4 linked regions of the Homo sapiens genome follow. The protein of the gene in region 2 purifies or fractionates together with the protein of the main gene of each other region. This does not show direct contact. Each region holds a gene or a part of one and is shown on either strand. Other genes may lie near its edges.

Region 1 (4,500 bases), on a different chromosome or scaffold from region 2:
AGGCACACGAGGGTGATGACCAGCCACGAGGCCCGCAGCCGCCGGGGCCCCAGCGCACTGTTCTTGGCCACACCAATGGTGGCTCCCAGCAGCAGGCAGCTGCGGTACAGGCAGGCTGCCCAGAGATCCAGCACCGAGTCAAAGATGTTGAAGTGGCGGATGTCCTCCAGGAGGCTGCGGTCCAGGTGGCTGAAGACATAGATGGCCGTGGTCACGCAGATGTCCACACTCATGAAGGCCAAAGTCACCACCACCGCCTTCCACAGCCGCATCCTGCTGGTTGGAGGTGGGCGGGTGCTGAAGGCCAGGTTGTAGCTCACGGGGGCAAGGCCATCATCATCCACAGGGCGAGGCCAGGCCTGTAGGGACAACAGCAAACATCAGCACAAGGGGTTCAGGTTTGCCACTCGCTGGCTGTGTGACCTTGAGAAAGTCACTTGACATCTCTGAGCCTTAGTTTTCTCATCTGTAAAATGGCAATATCAACTTCCCGGGTACTAAGATTCCACTCATTCAAGGGATACTTACTGAGTGCCCACTGCGGCCAGGTGCTGTTCTTTGTTCTTTGTCATGAACAAAAAGAACAAAGATCCCTGCTCTCCTGGAGATGACATACTCATGCAGGAGACAGATAATAAGGAAATGGGCTCACGCCTGTAATCCCAGCACTTTGGGAGGCCGAGGTAGGTGGATCACCTGAGGTCAGGAGTTGAAGACCAGCCTGGCCAACATGGTGAAACCCCCATCTCTACTAAAAATACAAAATTTAGCTGGGTGACAGAGCGAGACTCCATCTCAAAAAAAAAAAAAAAAGATAATAAGGAAATAATGTGTGTCTTGTGAGGCCAAGGTTGGAGGATCCCTTGAGGCCAGGAGTTGGAGAGCAGCCTGGGCAACAGGGTGAGACCCTGTCTTTAAAAAGCAAACAAACAAACAAACAAACAAACATTAACTGAGTGTGGTAGCATGCTCCTGTAGTCCAAGCTACTTGGGAGGCCAAGATGGGAGGATCGCTTCTTCAGCCTGGGAGTTCGAGGCCACAGTGAGCTATGATCATGCCACTACACTCCAGCCCTGGTGACAGCAAGATCCTATCTCTAAAAAAAAAAATTTTTTTTAATTAAAAAAAGAGATAAGGGTTGTGGTGGAAAAAAGAGGGGGGTAAATAGGATGGGGTGAGGGTGAATAGGATAGGGGTGGGGGAAGACAGAGATCAATTTTATTTTATTTATTTATTTATTTGAGACAGAGTCTTGCTCTGTCGCCCAGGCTGGAGTACAGTGGTGCGATCCCGGCTCACCGCAACCTCCGTCTCCCTGGTTCAAGCGATTCTCCTGCCTCAGCCCCCCAAGTAGCTGGGACTACAGGTACCCCACCACCATGACCAGCTAACTTTTTGTATTTTTTTTAGTAGAGACGGGGTTTCACCATGTTGGCCAGGCTGTTCTCAAACTCCTGACCTCAAGTGATCCACATGCCTCAGTAACCCAAAGTCTGGGATCAAAAGCGTGAGCCACTGTGCGGGGCCAGAGATCAATTTTAAATAGGGGGCCAGAGAAGACCTCGCTGGGTAGGTAACACTTGAGCAAGACTTGAAAGAGTTATGGAAGTCTGCCAAGTGGCTATCTGGGGAAAAGCACTTGGCACAGGTGAAACAGTGCCAGAGCCCCAAGGCAGGAGTGCCCCTTGGGAAGGCAGCAAGGCCCCATGAGATCAGAGAGGGTGGGGAGTATCTGGAGGATTTTGCATCCATAGTGAGGACGAAGCTGAGATAAGCAGAGTTTAATAAACAGCCGCTGTCTTTACTACCACTACTCATTTCTCTGAACCTGTTTCCTCATTTGCAAAATGTGAGTGTGAGGTTCAATGTGTCAGTTCTGGGCAGAGTGCCTGGTGCATAATTGCTGCTGATTGTAATCAACCATATACAGTGTGTGCTTAATAAATGTTTGTCCACTTTTCTCCTCCCACGTCAGGCCTTCTATCTCTGCAACCCCAAATAAACTATTTTGGTCTAAGAGGGAACTTGACAGCTGTGGGGGTGGCTTGCAGGCCACACAGCAATCCAGAAACCTTGGCATCTGCTTGGAAGTTTCCAGAATCTTTTCCTCCTGCCCAGGTTGGCCCTCGTGCCCAGCCCTAGGCCCCTTTGGTTTTCTGAATCTTGATGTCTGCTTTATCCAAGGCATCTCCCGGCACTGGGTCCCTCAGGACTCCCCCAGAGCCGCAGGGACACCCGGGAAGTGGGCCTGGAGGCCTGAGTTTGTGAGTGGGGCTTGTCCACGGTAGGGTTAGGACCGGGCTGGGGTGTGTCCCTGGGTGCTACCTCCTGTCTCAGCTCCAGTCCTTCCTCCCGTGGGCCTTTTGTTGTCATATCTGCAAAATGGGCTGGGCTCTAGATCCCCCAAGAGGAGGGGTGAGGCGCTGGGTGACAGCGGGGATGACTGTCGTGGCTGGGAAGGGGCCATCCTGAGAGAGATCCTCTCCCCGAAGCTCTGGCGCCCAGGTGCCCAAACCGCTCACACTGTGGCATGACTGGAACCTCACACAGTCCCACGAGGCCAGGGTTTCCATATTCCCGTTTACAGTTAGGGAAACTGAGGCACAGAGAGACAAAACCACCTGATCCAGACATTCAGCCAACAAGGGCCCAAGCCAGGATGACTTGAGGCAGTCAGTGAGTGTAGGACCCCAGCATCTGCCTCTCCACCTGTCTACTGCATGCCTGGCACAAAGCAGTTGTCTAATAACTACAAGCAGACAGGGATGTAACACTGCACTTCCTGTGAGCCCTGCCCTGCACCATGTGCTTCAAATCCAGGTGGCCCCACCTATTTAATCCTCACAGCAACTTTGTGAGATGTGCACTGTCATCCCTTCCACTTAACAGATGGAGAAACTGAGGCCCAGAGAAGTGAAGAATTTGCCCAAGATTACACAGCTTCTGAATAGCAGAGCTGGGATGTGGATTCATAGGTGTCTGAGCCCAGAATCTGTGTTCTTCACCCCTAAACTAAGATAACATTCAATATAGAAAATGCTACCAGGGGCCAGGCATGGTGGCTCACACCTGTAATCCCATCTGGGCCTCTTGGGAGGCCAAGATGGGCAACAGCTTGAGCTCACGAGTTCGATTCCAGCCTGGGCAACATGGCGAAATCCCGTCTCTACTAAAAATACAAAAATTAGCCGAGCATGGTGGTGCACGCCTGTAACCCCAGCAACTCAGGAGGCTGAGGCAGAAGAATCACTTGAAACTGGGAGGTGGAGGTTGCGGTGAGCCGAGATTGCGCCACTGCACTCCAGCCTGGGTGACAGAGTGAAGGAAAATGCTACCGGGAAGTGTTCATCTAAGGAAAAGGGTCCCCAGCAGAGGGCTGGGCCGTGTGGCAGAGGTGATAAGACTGCTGAGGCTAATTGCTGGCAATGACAGCAGCTGGTGCCAGCTGACATTGGCTCCAGGCACTTACATGCGTCAGCACTCACCAGAGCCCTATGAAGTAGGTCCTATCATTATCCCCATTTTACAGTTAGGAAAACTGAGGAACAGAGAGATTAAGTGACCTGCCCTGGGTCACAGAGCTAGGTGACCCACAGAGTTGGGTCACAAGCTGGGATGTGAACCCTGGCCGTCCAGTTCCAAAATCTGTACTCTCAACTCCATAGCTCCAACCCTTCAAAACAGCCTCTCCAGGAGGTAGGCACAACCCCTACTAATGCTGAGAAGGGGTCTGAGATGCAGAGGGGGAATGGAGTGGGGGGATATAACAACCTCCAAGCCTGGGCCCTGCTTTCACCCCCACACCTCCAGGCACACCGAAGCCCATCGCAGAGATGACAGTTGCTTAGTCAGCAGCTGCCCCTCCAAAGACGGTCAGGGCCAAGCAGGGTCAAGGGCAAGGGGAAGTGGGTAGGATGGTCGGACACCCTCAGCCCAGGTCCTGGCTCCCTCCCCAGCCCTGCCTGTGCTGCCCACGCAGGCTCCTGTCTGCTGCAATGCAGAGGCCGTGGGGAGCGAGCGAGTGGGTGAGCTCCAGTCAGAGCCCAGGGAGGGAAGCTCCTGGCCTGGTGCCATTCCAGGCCTCCCAGCCAAGCCACTGCCGGCTGCACCAGGTGCTGCCAGCCGCCTCAGCTGCTGCTCTCCTCGTGGTGGGCACATGGGGTCCCTCAGTCCCCAGAAAGGGGCTCGGGCTCAGAAGTGGAACAGGAGGCAGATCCGCAAGAGACTCAAAACCTGGACAGCAGCCCAGGGGCTTGGCTGACTCTCCCAACCTGACTCCCAGCCTCTGGGGGAATTCCTTCCCCATCCCCCAACAGCCCAGGGTACCAGTCATGCCCCCCGCCTCCAGAAGCCTATTTATCTTCATCAGAATAAACAAAATTTCAAACACTCATATCGCAGACTACCAAAGCCACATTTTGCAGATGGGGAAACTGAGGCCCACAGAGGGAGGGGGTGAGGCTTGTCTCAGGTCATCCACCAGGCTGGGGCAGAGCAGT
Region 2 (6,260 bases):
GCTTACAGTTTTTCAGACAGAAAGTTAAACCTAACTAGAATACTCAACTCCAGGCATTTTAGTTTAACAAGTTTGTACTAATGTGTGAAATTGTACTTGAAAGACTATTTAGTTCATAAACATAATAATTTCCCTTTATGTAGATCAGGGTGCATTTGCACAGATTCATTAATTTTCCTTCCATTTGAAACTTAAAAATATGATTCAAAATATGTAGTAAAAACAACACAAAATTGTCAGCAGCCTCCACAATATAAGGTGGTGAGAAGTTATTTAATTGGTACCACGCATGTTACCCTAAAAGTCCTGACTTGACCACGATGCAATCTAGGCATGTACCAAATTGCACTCATGCCCCATAAATTTATACAAATTAAAAAAAAAACCCAACCCCCCCCCGCCAAAGTATAAGGTGGGACACAGTATACCTCTGTGGTCTGCATATTGGTATGTTTATTCTCCCATCTTTTGGAATTGGATAAATATGCGAACATTCTCTTTTTCCACGTACTAACCAAGCTAATGGTCTGTTCTGGAATTGTCTCTTCCTTTTCTCTTCTTCATAGTTACAGAAAAAATCTGTTACAAGTTATGCCAGTGCTGGGATCCAAAGCAAAGGCCAGGTAGCCTGGTAAGTGTCTCTAGGAGTCTGAAAGAGAAGACCTTACTAAGCTGGGCCGGTCCTTGGCAAAATACTAAAGTGGATCAAGCTTATGTTTGAACTCCTTCTATTTCCTATATCTTCACTTGTTTCCTGCCTATCTAAAACATTAAAAGAATTGTTTTGCTTAGTGATATCATTTAAGAAATAATACAGCATTTTCTGATAAGAACTTATAATACAAGTTGTCCTGGGGATTGTTTTTTAACCACGGATTTTGAAATATATACTTACAAGAAGTTGAAAAAATAGTATAGAGAGGTCCCATACACCTTTCACCCAGCTTTCCTTAATCTTACATAAATTTAGTACATTACAAAACTAAAAAATTAACATTGGCACAATACAATTAATTAGACTATGGACAGAAGGATTTTTAAAGAATGAAAAATTCTCAAGGCTAAAAGGAAATCTTTTCTAAGTCTTAATGTCACCTCTGTTTGTGTGGACCTCAATTTTTGCACTTGTCTTATTGAATTGAATTCTAGATCAACGTGCCGTCTTCTCCATCCTATCCCTTTAGAGCAGGGACCATGCTTACTTTAACAAGGTAGGTGAATAAAGCATGGTCACTGCTCTGGCATGCATAGGTATTTTTGGTTGAAAGGATGACTAATAGTTGCTTACGTCTGTAACGGGCTTTATAGTTTTCAAAGCCCATTTATACACATTATGGCTACTGAGAATTATCATGGTCTAGGGGAGAGAGCACGGGCTCTGAAAGCATTCCAATCTTGGCATTTATTAGCTGGAGTCTTGTGACAAGGCACTGAATGTCCTACCTCGTGTGCTTAATTGTATCCACATAATAGAGTTGTTGTGAAGATTCAGGAAGTAATTTTTGTAATAAAGAATGGAACACAGGGTTTCTGAAAGGTAGACAGGGTAAAGGATTTGATTGCCATTTCACATGCTCAGAAGAGGTAAATCATTTGCTGAAAACCACAGAACCGGTACATGGTAGTGCAGCTAAGCGTCTTAGGTTAGGTGTCTTCCATGATATCACATCGCCTTTCCCGTTACAGGAAAGTGGATATAAAAACAAAACAAAACAAAGAAAACACACAAAGAAACAACAACCATGGGGCATTTACAGAGGTTTAAGAATTTGTCCTTATGTGTGGCTGTTGATTTCCATTGCTATGTGCCCAGGAAATTCTCACTTAGGTGGGGCCTGGGTGAGGGGCTAAACTCAAGGTGAGCCACGGCTGTGGGTGCTATTTCAGGGCGTCCCTGACAAGTGTTCCCCCACCCTAACATGCAGTTAATACCATGTAGCGAGGAATTGCCTTGCCAAACTTTGCTGCAAATGTTTATGCCCTCATTTCCTGGGGAAGGCGTGGAAGGATGAGAACTTGGAGCTCTCAACTTACACTACACTCCCAAATTTTCTTTTGAATCAAAAGAGAAGTTAAATTTAAAGAGACAGAGGGTTTTGGCATCATCATCACCACCATCATTATTATTTTCTGCTCATGAAAATAATTTATTAACAAAAGGGTACAGGTAAACATGGAATTTTTTTCCTAACCTGAAATGACTGGTAACACAGTGGCCAAAGTTGCTTCCCAACCTGCCCTAAACACCTTTTATATACCCTTAAATTCTTCATACTAGAAAGACTATTTTGGAAATATTCCTCTGGCTTATTTAATCTATTCATTTCATTGAAATGGAATAGGGATGGTAAAATATGGCATTAATTTTTGAAGCTGTTGGCCACAAATGTCAAAAGCTCTGGTAGTTTAAACATGCAATTATAATTAGAAACATTACATTTTTTATGGTGGTTTGCAATTTATTGTTTTCCCTTCAGTTAAAAAATAGGACTGTCAGTAATCAAGATTAGAGATGGAGAAGGCTAGGACTAGAATATTTCCCCAGGATTCTGAATAGTTTCTGTGGTTTTGATGCTGTCCTTTAACTTTAGATGCGATGGAGCAGAGGGAAGGAGGAAAGAAGGAGGAAAAGGAAGATATAATCACTTTGACATATTACAATTGGGAGAGTCAGGATTGAAAGTTACCCTGAGACATTCCTTAATAGAAGAGCTCAGAGTTAACAAAACTTATGCAAACTTTTAAGAGACACAGGACTATAAAAAGGCTTGTTAATTTCTAAATTAGTAAAAGCCCACATTCCCGGAATCATAAAGTATTAAAGATACCCAGAAAGTTTTGTTCTTGGTTTGGCTTTGACTTTTTCATCATTTATTACCTAAGAAACAAAAACACTTTATTTCTGTCTACATACTATAATTCAAATGGAGCTTAACACACAACAACTGTTTCCCTTGAATTTAAAAAAGATTTTCTGAAAAATAAACCATAGCACACACAGAGAAAACAAAATTTGTCATTATAGTAAAAATAACATGCCCATTTGGAGCTTCTTTTGTGCCTATGTTTTTCATTGCTTTGTGCTTTCCCTTGTTTTTCTTTCAAGGAACAGTGATAAACCTTGCTAAATAAAAAGAGTTTTATGAATGCATCTCCCTGCCCAGAAGCACACCTATGATAGCAAATGACAAAGAATAAGGGCGACAGAGCATTACAACTATACAGAAACTGGCACAAATGTGAGAACTTTCCTAGGAGTTTTCAATGAATATATTCCTTGAATACAGTTTAAGAATTACTACTCTTTAAATATTATAATGTTGCTTAAAATATCAATTATATGAATTGGTTATTATGAAGCCTAGGTTTACACGGCACATCAGTCTCGCTTCACTATTGACTATGATAAGATATTATGGTCTTTAATACAAATACCAGACATATACTAAGAAGAACAATTCTGAAGTGAGATTACAATTTTATCAGCAAGTGCATTTTATCTTAAAAGCATAAATATAAGGAGTAAACATTTGTGCTTGTGGTTATTCCACAAAATACTAAGGTATACAAAATTAGATACTGAGCATACTTACAATATTTTCCAAAAATTAAGATGTAGAAGAAGACAGAACCAGATGTCATTTCCTTCTATCTGAGCAACTGATTAATGAAAGTGAGCAAAATTTGGTCTTGGTTTCTGAATCGCATACAGCTCACAGTGGTTGTGTGCTATTTCTGTCTGCAATCTTAGCAGTTACAAAGCAGTCCTCCCTCCTTCCACTCCCATTTCCTTTCTCTGTCTCTTTCCATTCCTCTTTTTTTCTTTCCTCCTTTCTATTCTCAGGATCTCTCCTCCCCGCCCTCCTTCTCTAAATGTCCTAATCTCCTTCTTTACACACACGCACGCGTGCGCGTGCACACACACACACAAAGCTGAAAAGCAATAAAAAGTTTCAGAGAACACATAACGCTATCTACAAACGAGGGCGTATACGAAGTCTGAGAAATGTCTGAACTGATCAAAGACACACTACCAGAAAGAAATTGAGCTAGAGATATCTCATAAGCAAAAACATATTTTTTCCCCTAATGACACAGGAATAGGAAAAGAATGGAATTACACAGGGCAAAATGCCTTTGTGGAATTAACTGTGGGACAGCGATTAAAGTCTAACTACAGCAATCGTTTATAAACTGTTTGAGTTTGGGAATTCGAACAATAGGATATTGTTGAAAGAAGAATACAAAGGAATAAAACAACTTAAAATCCTTTTGAACTTGTGAATTTTGCTACAATGGAGACCATGACATGTCAGTGGATGTCCTGGAGCAAAGCTGGCCTGGGTTTGAATTGTAGGTCCCCTGTGACTTTAGAGTTATGCAGGTGCTGACTCTTGGCTGAGCCTTGCTTTTCTGGAGCAAAATATGTATGCAGCAAGGTAGCTGTGATGGCCAGCACAGGGCATAGTGAGGGGTGTAGGTCCTACTGCATTATAGGTGATTACTAAGTGTCAGTCATTCATATGATGATTTTTATTATTGGACCAGTGGGGGGAAAAGTATGAAAATGCAATGAACATTTCTGTAGACTGCATTTTCTTTTAACCAGACTGGGTCATTCTTATTTTTCAACTTGCTAATGAATTTCTGGAACAAGTGAGTAGTAGCCCTTTGACATGAGGAATTTATTTTTGAGGTTAATGCTCCCTACTCGTAGATATACACGTAGAATCTGCTTGAATTACATATCTGTATATCATTGACTTCAATATAATAAGCCTATTTCTAAATGAGGGCTAAAAGGTTATACTAACACTGCTTCCTCCCTCCATAAATATAATTAATTCCATGAAAGAAGAATTTTAATATAGAAATCTTCACAAACCCTTATTCATTTAGTAGTAGATTTAGTGAAGACACTGTTCTTTTGATGGACATGCTTATGGTTAACTGAATTTAGTCCCATAAAATGTTCACTATTTTTAATAATACTTGAAGTATTTTAAGATTATTATGTGAGTGGTTCATGGATTTTTTTAAATTTATTTAGAAATAGTAGTTTTTTGGAAGGATGCTGTGGAACGTGTCAAGGGCAGTTTCAGAAGGGGGACCCATAAGAAGCTTCTTAATAGTAAAATTGAAGGACTTGCTTTGGGAATTGTCAACAAAAAGTAAGCTGTTGATACAGAGGTCTTCAAAATCATTCTGATGTTATTTTGCAAACTTTGAAACTTTTGCCTGAGCGAATATCACAGATACATACAATTAGTGGGCGGGTAGCCAGGAAGTACTCGTTAACAATGTATTTTTAATCTCTCAAATTATCAGGGCAAAATTTCCAAATCACCTCTCATTTTATTAAGAATCTATTAGGTTTTACTAAAATAGATATTCATCTGAATGAATAATTTTCATGGTTTGTTTTCTCAGGGTGTCACTTCTGTCTTATTTTTGGCAAAGACAGTGAATCTGGCATATTAGTTTTATAGAAGTATTTTGGTGGCAAAACCCAAAAGTGAATATAGCACACCCTGGCCATACATTGAGGCAGGTACTGTTTCTACTATGGGCTGGAGAATTCCTTATTGTGAGAGGCTGTCCTTTACATTGTAGAACGTTTAGTGGCCTCCCTGGCCTCCACCCATTGGATGCCTGTAGCACTCTCCAGTTGCGACAATTAAAGGTGTCTCCAGCCGTTGGCAAATGTTCCTGAAGGACAAAATCGCTCCTGGTTGAGAACCACTGCATTGTAGCAAAAGACTCCCCTCAGTAATGTTTAGGTATTATTATTATTATTATTATTATTTTTACCAGATTACTGAAATAGAATTCTTATTAAGATTTGAATTAAAGTGTGTTTTCTCATTCTCTTGTTTTGCAGTTTGAAGACACATATTAAAGAGTTTTAAAAACAAACAGATGGTGTATGTTCTTAGCCTTCACTTCCTGCCTACATTGTTCAATTATAAACTTGCACTCTGGGCCCAATAGAATCTGTGATGTCAACGCCTCCACTTGGCTGAGCATGTCAGGGGTTTCTGCCCTCGACATAGGCTAATAGAGGCTGATACCCTTTCTTATCTTTGAATCTCTTCTTAAAACCTCGTTGAGGCTCTTTGAATAACAAAACCTTCTATTTGAAAATTACTTCTCGAACCAACCTAGTGAGTCAAACCAAACAAGCATTGTTAACCTGTTTGCACTATACACATCCACAGTAATCTTGCAGCTTTTTCATCCTACCATGACGGAAATAAACC
Region 3 (5,004 bases), on a different chromosome or scaffold from region 2:
TCAACTCTATAAGAATTGAGTCCAAGAAGATAACTGAGTAGAATGAGATTGCTATCCAGGCGTAATTGCAAAGAGGAATTTGTCACCATATTATAGACAAGGAAGATGACTTTACCTACCACATATTAGCTTAGGAGTCTGAAAAGGGAGAAAAAAAGGATTGCAAAGGGCAAATCAGAAGTGAAGAAGGGAACTAATATTTAATGAGCACCTAAACTATGCTAGGTGCTGTAAATTATTCTTATAAGTTCAAATAAATTAAGTGAAAAGAACTTAAGAATTTCTTGAGGGATTTGAATAATAATAAACTGAACTGAAGAGTTATCTTTACACTGATAAGATATAATATCCAAGACACGTATTTAATTTACCAAAATTTCAGTTTCCTTGTGCCTAACATAATTGCCTGCTATTCAGAGTTTGTCTGAGGATTAACTAAGAAAGAACATACCGCACAGTTAAAAGAACTTGGGAGTACTTATTTCCAACTAAATGTTAGTTCTGCGCCTCTCCATCCTTCCTCTTGTCACAGTTTTATAAGGTAGACAGTATAATTCCCATTATAAAAAATAATATTGCTGAATCTCATAATGGCTGAATGACTTTCCCAAGGCCACTCAGCTAGTGAAGGAAACAGCCAAGGACTGAATCTGGGTTTCTCTGATTCCAAGTATCTTGCCTTCAAAGATTAACAACAAATGGAACCAAAACCAAAGAATAGTTTTCCATGAAGCCACAAAAGTAGCCAAATCCTTAAAAATGGTTGAATGATTGTTTTAAATATTTAATAACTTATTTTAGTAGTAAATGTGGCCTGCTTTTTAAGTTAAAGTTGGGCTAGCATAACCTTTTAATAGAACATAAAATTTTAACCATTCTGCAAAACTTTTTTAATATGGCACTGATCCATTTAGGCAGTGTTCAACTAACCAAAATTCTTAATTACTAAAATATTTCTGCAGCATCCTTAGAAAAATGAGGGCAACCACATGAAAATTAACATATTGGATATGATATTTAAAACAAACAAACAACAATACCATCACTATAACCAAAGTATGTGCTTTATGTGTTTAATCTATCTCACACTTTCTACAAAGAGGATTTCTATTCTATATAATGATCCTGAGGTCCTGAACTAAATATACATTCAGTCACTAGGAACACCATGCTACACTTACTAAGCCATTTAACCAGGCTAATGCAGTTTATCTAAATGTCAATTTGTATTACAAATTCACTTAAAAATTATTTTCTTTATCTTCAGTTTACCCAAACACTTTACAAGAATACTGAGAAATTGGTATTACTTCTTTAAATTTTTAGCCAATATGTGTGGTTTTGCCTAAAAAAGAGATTGAACCAAAATATCCTCTACAAAACATCCATCTCCTTTCAAATTACTAATATGAGACCAAACAAGATGCCCATAATTGATGCTCAAGATAAAATCCTCAGTGTGTAGAGACAGGAGTTGGTATTGGGAGCTGAAAAGGTGAAGAAAAGAAATAGAGTGTATTGGTCAGTGGTGAATGAGGAGGGGATTTTGGATTGGACCAATAATGGATCTTTTATATAACTAAAATAGCACATCAATACTAAACTAAACTTCAATGAAACATTTCAATTGAGTTGAGAACCTAGTTAGTATACATGTATTATTTTAAAACAAAGAAATGTGGCATGTGATATATGGGATGACTATTCCAGAAAATACTAAATTCGCTGAAATACAAAATGTGCTTGAGACAGAAATAGACAGAGGAATTTCAGAAGTTTGTGCAAAGCAGTAATGCTATAAATAAAACACATGAACAATATTTTGCTAACAATAAATATTCTAGTTTTGAAACTTAATTTTAATTTTGAGACATATATTCTGTTTCAGTTAAAAAAATATACTAGTTATGAAAAGGTTGTATCATGTTATACAAACATCATTATTCATAATGGTCAGAGTCACCTGTTCAAAGTGAGTATATTGTATTAAAAAGGTTGTCATTTTCACTAACTACCTGTTACATATTTAAACCAATTGTCTACTTAAAACTCCAAAATGTTTAAACAGCATAAAATTTCCAGTGCCAAGTAGATACCTACTCAAGACAACACAGACAAGGAGGAGGTAAATAGACTCAGGAGATTTTAAGTTTCTAATGTGCTTTTTCAAACAACTTGCATGCAATTTTGAGTTTGATTAACCACACCTAAGGAAAAAATGCAAATTTTCTGGAAATGATATTGCATACCATTTGGGTGTATTGTACCTCTGATACCAGCCTTATACACATCCTAGAAAAGCACAGATAGACAAAAGAATAAGCACCAAATGAATGCAATAAATACCTTGCAAGAATAAGAAAAGTGTAAAGAAAAAGAGTTCCTTATCTATAGCAACAGTTATATAGAGTCAAAATGGAGAGACAAATCAGAGTCTCTTTTACTCCCTCCCCCAGCCTAGTCTCCCTCTCTGGCTCCGTTTTCCTTTTCTCCCTCCTTTCCCCACTTCGGCCCTCCCATTTCCGTCTCTTTTTCAGCAATATTTACAGAACAATCCTCCACCACACCACTCACCTGTCGTCGTTTTGCCATCCTTGGTCCCCTAGCAGCAAATCTCGAAACCTGTACCTGGGAGGCAGAGGGGGCACTTCGCTCTCCAAATCAACCATCCTTCCTCAAAGAGTGGGAAACATCAAACAACAAATGGAGGAGAGGAGGGAGAAAGAAAGAAAATATTGCGGAGTACAGGGAGAGGACTAACAAGACGCTGTGGCCGAGAGAGGGATGGGAGAAGGGGAAGGGGACAGGGAGGGGGAGGGGGTCCGCTTGGAGCCGGAAGCTAAGGCTTGAAAGGGGGCTGGCTCCTCTTTCCCGAGGGTGTAATGGGGATGATGCAAACCCAACCCAGGAGCAAAAGTCTGGCTCTGACAAGAATCAACGCTGCCAAGGAACCGCCCCCAGGCTCGGCACCGCCTCTGGTCCCCAGGACTAGGGGGAGGCGGGTATAAAAAGTTACTTCGCCGAAAAAGACGCGCGGTGCCTAGAAAGAGGGGAGAGGGGTGGGAGTGAGCGCCGCTTGATGGTGAAGCACTTTCCTTAAAGGCAGTTGCCAGATCCTCCCAGAGGGCAGCCTCCCGGCTACTGTTCCCTCGGGCGGGCTTGCATCCGGCACAGCCCTGAGCTGGCGGGAATCGGGGGCGGTGGGTTTCGGCCCCAGACGCGGCCAACCCGGCTCTCCCCGCAATCTCCCTGTGGAGATGGAGCTGGAGGCCCAGCCAATGAGACTCCCCCTCATTAGCATAGCACAGTGACGGCACGGGGGTGCCTTGGGGACAACCAATGGGGGCGAGCTAATTAGCGGATTGCGGGGCTCCAGACCCTTCTCTGGGAGGAGGGGGGCCAGGGTGCTTGGAGTGTTCCACTATGCCACGAGCTCCCTCGCTTTGATTGCCTTCAGTCCAGGTGGGCGGGATGAAAAAATTGCACGTTTCTGGAAAGGGAATCCCCACTCTCAGCCCCAGGAAAATCCCATTTTTTTCTCACATTCTGAAAGAAGGGAGGTGTTTCCCTGAACTCGGGGAAAAAGAAGGGCCACCTTAGGCCGCTGAAGAGAAGCATTTAGATGACAGGGAAAGCACATGGAAACGCACTGAGGATTTTACAGTGGTGAGTTGCTGTTACTGCTGTCGCTGCTACTAGCAGCGTTGTGGGCTTCCAGGTGGCCTGGCCTCAGCCTTCGGTCCCCTCCTATTAGTGGTTCACACGGAGGAAGAAGTGAGCCCGAGAGAACAGGGTCTGTTTTTCAGTAAGAACCACTGCTTACATGAACCCTGCTACACAAGCTATGGTTCTATTTGCGCTTACCGTTCTTTCCTTCAAAAACTGATTGCATCAGAGTATATACAGACCGAATACCAACCACCTGACAGCCTGGGCCGGAGGATAACCATATGGCTTCTCCTGCCCTTACTTAAGAACCGCTCTGTGTGGAGGAACAAGCTTGTTCCTTGATAAATGGATACGATGTGAGAGACAATAATCAAAGAACATACAGAGGGATTTGGAAATACCTGTGAGGTACACATACTTCTTCGAGGTGGGGGTCAAGGAAGACATTGAAAATGAACCAAGCCTTCTATATTCGTTCGCAGCCTACTTTAGGGAAAAGAGCAAAGGTGAAGCAAGCAGAGAGAATAGTATGAGTAGAGGCATAGGGATTTTTTAGAATATTTGGCTTATCCAGAAAATAGTGATTAATTTGGCATGATTAATGCTCAGTAGAGGTCATGTAGCAGAGGGTTTATTTAAGAAGCTAGAAATGAAGGAAGAAATTACCAAAACTTGTAACATCAAATGAAATACAATGACTACTGAAACCTGAAGAATAGCAGTTGAAATAAAAGTCATACTGTTTGTCTCTGTCTTCAAAATCCTACTCATCCTTCCAGACCCATCTCAAATTACATATCCTCCATTAGATTTCTTGGTTTTTCCAGCTTCTTATGATGTCTTCTTCCTTTGAACCCCTTTGTTTGAACCCTTCATAACCCATGTGAGTATTTTGCCTGGAATGCTTACTATAACCTGACCCGCTATACGATTATCTGTGCGTTTTTCTTTCAACTCTTCCCCTCTCCCTGTGGCTTAGCTGCCTCTAGCACGGGACCTTCAAAATAGCCACATTTCAACAAATAGGTGTGGAGTTGCATTAAAAGCTATTAAATCTAGGAAATTAAGCATGTTTTTTTCCATCCATGCTTGCACTCCTGTGGTATGTGTTTGTTTATGAAATCATAATTTAGCACGAACTTTTGTAATTACTTTGCTAAATAAGAAAGTAATATTGCTACATTATTAGTTTATACAGATAGAGATAGAGAGAGAGATCTGGTTTATATTTTAGACCTTATCATCTCCTATTAAAATGATTCTATTAATTTTATTTGTAATGTTCCAAGTTAATATTTATAGTTACAGTCTAACTGTATTATTTGGATGACAGAA
Region 4 (4,500 bases), on a different chromosome or scaffold from region 2:
AAACTTGGCTAAGAAAGGTATTTAGTACCTGAAATTTTCGCTTACTAAAGTAACAAAAGGCATGAGACTTGGCTATTGATTTTTAAAGTGGAATAACTTTTCTCCCCTCAAAAATGTCTTTCTTACTCATATAAATAATGCCTTTTACTTGTATATCTTTTTACTGTTCAAAGCACTTTTGCAGTTATGCTATTGTTTCCCTCACAACAATACTGTGAGGGAGGTAAAGTATTATTATTCCCATTTTAGAGATGGGTCCTTTTGTAACTGCCTATGCTTACACAGTTCATTAATGGAAGGGCTTGAACTTAAACTCTTTTATGGAGTCCTGGAGTCTAGACCTGGGCCCCAGTCCTTAATATTACACCATGCTTTTTCCTGCCAGCAATAAAAGCTGCTCCATCTAGTTTTAAACTCATGTCAGTTTCACTATATAGCAATCATCATAGCAGTTACCTACAAAGGGACAAACATATACTTGTCTATTTTATAGGTATATAACAGACCGAAACCATTAAGGTACCCCAACAACAGTCGAGCTTACTTGTTTTCCCTCAGTCAAATGTTACTGGGACCCGTAAAATGGACCCAGTGTGAGTATATCTTCATTTTCAGAGAACTGGTCCCAATTCCTATGTATGAATACTATTTTTGTCATTCTTTTCTTAATGAATACTCACTACAGAAGTATTCAGAATGATCACCATTCCTTTACAACTGTAAGACGCCAAAGCAAAAAGTATATTTTGCATGATTCCTTTCCTTCACAGAATACTCCTACATGAAAATGTTTTTTCTAAAACAAAACCAGCCCAAACTAGTTATCAACACAGTCATTTTAAAAAGAGTCCTCCAAAACTTTAAATACCCTTTCACATGCTTTATTTCCTATGGGAGAACTGATGAGGAAAATTATCATAAATGTTTAAACTTTTAATTATAAAATTTAAATTTCCATTTAAAAGGAAAGCATCAATATTTTAAAAGATTATATTTCAAAATGCTATGTTACTGTTTTTCAGTAATTAAGTCTTGTTATCCTCTCTACAAAATTCTTGACCAACTGCAATCTACATTTATTTCCTATTACATTGTCTTTCAATGTAAGCTCTTCAAATTAATCACCATATTTTTACCATACAGCTGCACAAAAGCTTTAGAAAAAAATTTCACAGAAGCATCGAAAGCAAGCAATATATGTAAAAAATTTTTTTTTACTAAATCAGCATAACAGACTAAAGCTGCAGCATCTGCTTTCATGTTACATTTGGCAAAAACAAAACAAAAAGCACCCCCAAACCCCCAAAATAACAAAAATCTCAAGCAAGTAGAGACGATAAACTTCATAACACAAAAGAAAGATTCAAAACCTGTTCCCTCAGTGATTGCTGTTGTCAGTTTGGGCATGCAGCAAATTTGTTATAACCATGATGGAAATGAAAATATTTTAAGAATCTAGACAGTATTCTATTTAACACTAATTCAAAAACCAAGAGGAAGAAAAATAACACAAGGGGACACCATACATACATAAACATGAAAAGCTAGCTTACATAATTACATAATTAGAAAAGTTAAATAATTTAGTAAAAATAAATTCCCAGTATAAACCCAAAAAAGCATAGCTATAAATGCAATCCAAAACAACCAATTAGTAAGCTGGTCATGTTTTTACTGGAAAACAACCTTTCTCATTTTTGTTCTTACACAAGCAAGTAACTGGAGAAGCAGGCCAGAGTGCATACGAGGATTTAAACATGGTTGTATCTGTGGTACTTTAGATGCAACTTTACCCTGTTCATTTGAAAGCTTAAATAGACCTGTCTGCTACACAGACTCGGATGGGCCAAATAAGTCATCTGATATGCTGCTGAATGGCTGAGAGTCTATTAGTTGGCTTATTTCATTATCAAGGTCTTCTTCTGTATCATCTGTGTACTTGCTTATTTTTTTGGAGTGCTGGTCTAAAGACAGACTTTCTAAAGTTTCTATATCTTCAATGCCTGCTCTGTAGTGAATCATAAGAAGTGTTAGAGCTTGTAGCCTTTCACCTGATTTAGCTAAGGCAGCAGAAAGAAGTGATTTTTTCCTTGTATCAGTTGTCTCTTTTTCTTCTCTAACAAGGGAATTATTGTGTTCCAACTCCTGATCAATTTCATTCTGTAGCTTATCCAACATGAACTCTAGTTTCTGGATCCTTTCCTCTGTAGGCAAGCCCCTGTACAGATCACGACCAATTTCTTTAACTGCAATGAAAACACTGTCATCCAGACCACCCTCTTTTCTCACTAACTTTATTCCTGTGCTGTTTCCCCGTTTAGAAGGACTGTTTGGACCACAGACCTCCGTGTCACTGCCTTCGTTGTCTGACGTGTTGGGTGTGTGTTTTGGTGAAGGTTCTACGAGATCGGTTCCTGGTTCAGAAAGGCGAGTTTTAGAGACTTGACGCAAATTTAATAAACGAGAACTAGTATTGATAATATGCCTTGTCAAACCTGTTGTTTTATTGACTGACTTGCTAGCTTCAGCATCAACACGAGGAGGCAGGCCTAAGAGGGTTTCCTGTCCTTCCAGCCTAAGGTTTTTCAGTGTCCTGTCTATTCGCCTATCAGTTGCTCCACAAACAGAAGTCTCAGCTAGACACTTTTCTTGACATTTTTTATGGCAAACATAAGCACAAAACATACACTGGGAAGCTGCTTTAGTCCAAACTTTTTTCTTACAGTAGTCACACCATGTTGGGTTCTGGAACTGAGTATCCTGAAAACTGTGTTTGTTTTCTGTTAAACCCATCTGTCCAACAAATTGCTCCTCTTTAGGGAGAACAGAAACTTCTTCAACCAAATGGGGTTCTTTTTCTTTTTCTACGTTAGTAACTACATGGTGGTCTGATTCTCCTTCTTTCAAATATTTGAAGTGAATAGTAATGTCACCATAGCAAAATTTGTCATTGAATCCCTTTTGCATACTCAGATTGCGTAGTGCGGTTCTAGTGACTATAGCCTTAGGTGAGGGGGCTTCCAGTCTCAATTTGGAAAGGTATTCCGTGTTTGATGTAGCTAGGCATCCTAAAGCCACATCTTCAAGTTTTAAACTAACATGCCCCAAACAGATGAGACCTCCCAACTTGAAAGGATCCCTGCACCACAATGCAATGTTTAAGTACCTGTGACAGGCTTCTATGTCAAACAAACAGGATGCTCTGGTTCTTGTCCATTTTCCTAGCTTATTACGATAAAGAATTTCTGATGATTCCCATGTTTGACGGTCGTCCGAACTGTCCTTAGTAGGGCAGGAAGTTTCTGAAGTGACATCTTTGGCCACTTCTTGCTTTGCTAAAAATTGCTTAGGTGCAGCTGCATCGTCTATGGCATCCACATTTTTTGCTTGCTTTTCAGCAGATTTATCTACAAGAGGAGGTGGCACCACCTTCTCTGGCTTTTCAACGAGAACATCTGGTTCTGCCTGATTTGGAGCATCGGCGGAAGGCAAAGGAACTTTCGCTTGTGGTCGTGGTGGCACAGGTGGTTTGAAAGCAGATCCTTGGGTTGGTTTTGACACTTGTGCTGGGTCTGTTATCTCAGAAGTTTTTAGGGGTGGAGGTTTATTTCCATCTTTGGACTGAATTTTCGGTGGTAGTGGGTGACTTCCTACAGCTAATTTACGGTTTAAAACTGGTGATATAGCTCCAAGGGGTTTAATAGAAAGTGTTGTTGGAACACGTTTGGGACTATGACTTAATGATTGTGCCTCATCTTTGAACTCATTTTGTGCTCTGACATCACTTGCCAAGTCTTCAAATTCAGAATCCAGCTCTCTACTTTCAGTATCTACTGTCAACCCGGCAGCTTCCTCTTCATAACCCGATTGGCATGAGCTTGACAAAAAGTTTTCTTCCAACTGGCCAAAGTTATCTTGCAGCACTGCACCTTGATTACTCTGGCCAACAGGCCTTTCATAGTACACCAGGACTCGGTCACCAGCCTGCTTGATAAGCTTCAACACTTGCAGTGTTGATGTGATTTTCACACCTGGTTTAAGATTTTAAAAGGGAAAACATGTAAATTATTGCAATAGAAATTACTACATTTGTTAAATGTATTTAATTAAATATATATAATTGCCATTACCTCTGGTTATTTAACTAATAGAAGAATAATAGGAAAATCTCAACAATATTTTATTTGGCTTTTGGATGAATCAGTGTGCTAATTCTCAAACCCTGAATGTGCTGATATCCTGGAGATGTTTACCTTTTCAAACCAGATGATGACACAGGATCCCAAAAAGAGTGCCAGGATGCTAACTCCTAATTGCTTTCTATCTCTTCTTAGGTTAGATGACATCTCTCAGTTTGAACTGAAGAAGTGAACAGAGAGAGATCTATTTAAAGGATTCTATTAATGGCTAAATCAGACTTAGAGTGAGGGAAAGCTGTGATTCCACTGAAGGAAATTCTAAAATACTCCAGGGATTACAAGACATATGATGAAAGATTCA

Evidence for each region. The genes of interacting proteins can lie anywhere in the genome.
Region 1: the proteins of RXFP1 (region 2) and ABCB9 purify together in Homo sapiens (affinity purification with mass spectrometry; one large-scale study listed by BioGRID and IntAct). This does not show direct contact.
Region 3: the proteins of RXFP1 (region 2) and KCNT2 purify together in Homo sapiens (affinity purification with mass spectrometry; one large-scale study listed by BioGRID and IntAct). This does not show direct contact.
Region 4: the proteins of RXFP1 (region 2) and PDZD8 purify together in Homo sapiens (affinity purification with mass spectrometry; one large-scale study listed by BioGRID and IntAct). This does not show direct contact.

What each region holds. Positions count from the first base shown.
Region 1 is NC_000012.12:122,959,964-122,964,463, forward strand, and holds part of ABCB9 (ABC-type oligopeptide transporter ABCB9), read right to left. Parts: intron 360-4,500; 5' UTR 273-359; coding exon 1-272. UniProt on the Homo sapiens protein: ATP-dependent low-affinity peptide transporter which translocates a broad spectrum of peptides from the cytosol to the lysosomal lumen for degradation.
Region 2 is NC_000004.12:158,519,359-158,525,618, reverse strand, and holds the start of RXFP1 (relaxin receptor 1 isoform 1 precursor), read right to left. Parts: upstream 3,738-6,260; 5' UTR 3,643-3,737; coding exon 3,594-3,642; intron 1-3,593. UniProt on the Homo sapiens protein: Receptor for relaxins. The activity of this receptor is mediated by G proteins leading to stimulation of adenylate cyclase and an increase of cAMP.
Region 3 is NC_000001.11:196,605,641-196,610,644, forward strand, and holds the start of KCNT2 (potassium channel subfamily T member 2), read right to left. Parts: upstream 2,801-5,004; 5' UTR 2,670-2,800; coding exon 2,575-2,669; intron 1-2,574. UniProt on the Homo sapiens protein: Sodium-activated and chloride-activated potassium channel. Produces rapidly activating outward rectifier K(+) currents. Contributes to regulate neuronal excitability.
Region 4 is NC_000010.11:117,281,441-117,285,940, forward strand, and holds part of PDZD8 (PDZ domain-containing protein 8), read right to left. Parts: intron 4,360-4,500; coding exon of another isoform or gene 4,331-4,359; exon of another isoform or gene 4,254-4,330; intron 4,032-4,253; coding exon 1,828-4,031; 3' UTR 1-1,827. UniProt on the Homo sapiens protein: Molecular tethering protein that connects endoplasmic reticulum and mitochondria membranes. PDZD8-dependent endoplasmic reticulum-mitochondria membrane tethering is essential for endoplasmic reticulum-mitochondria Ca(2+) transfer.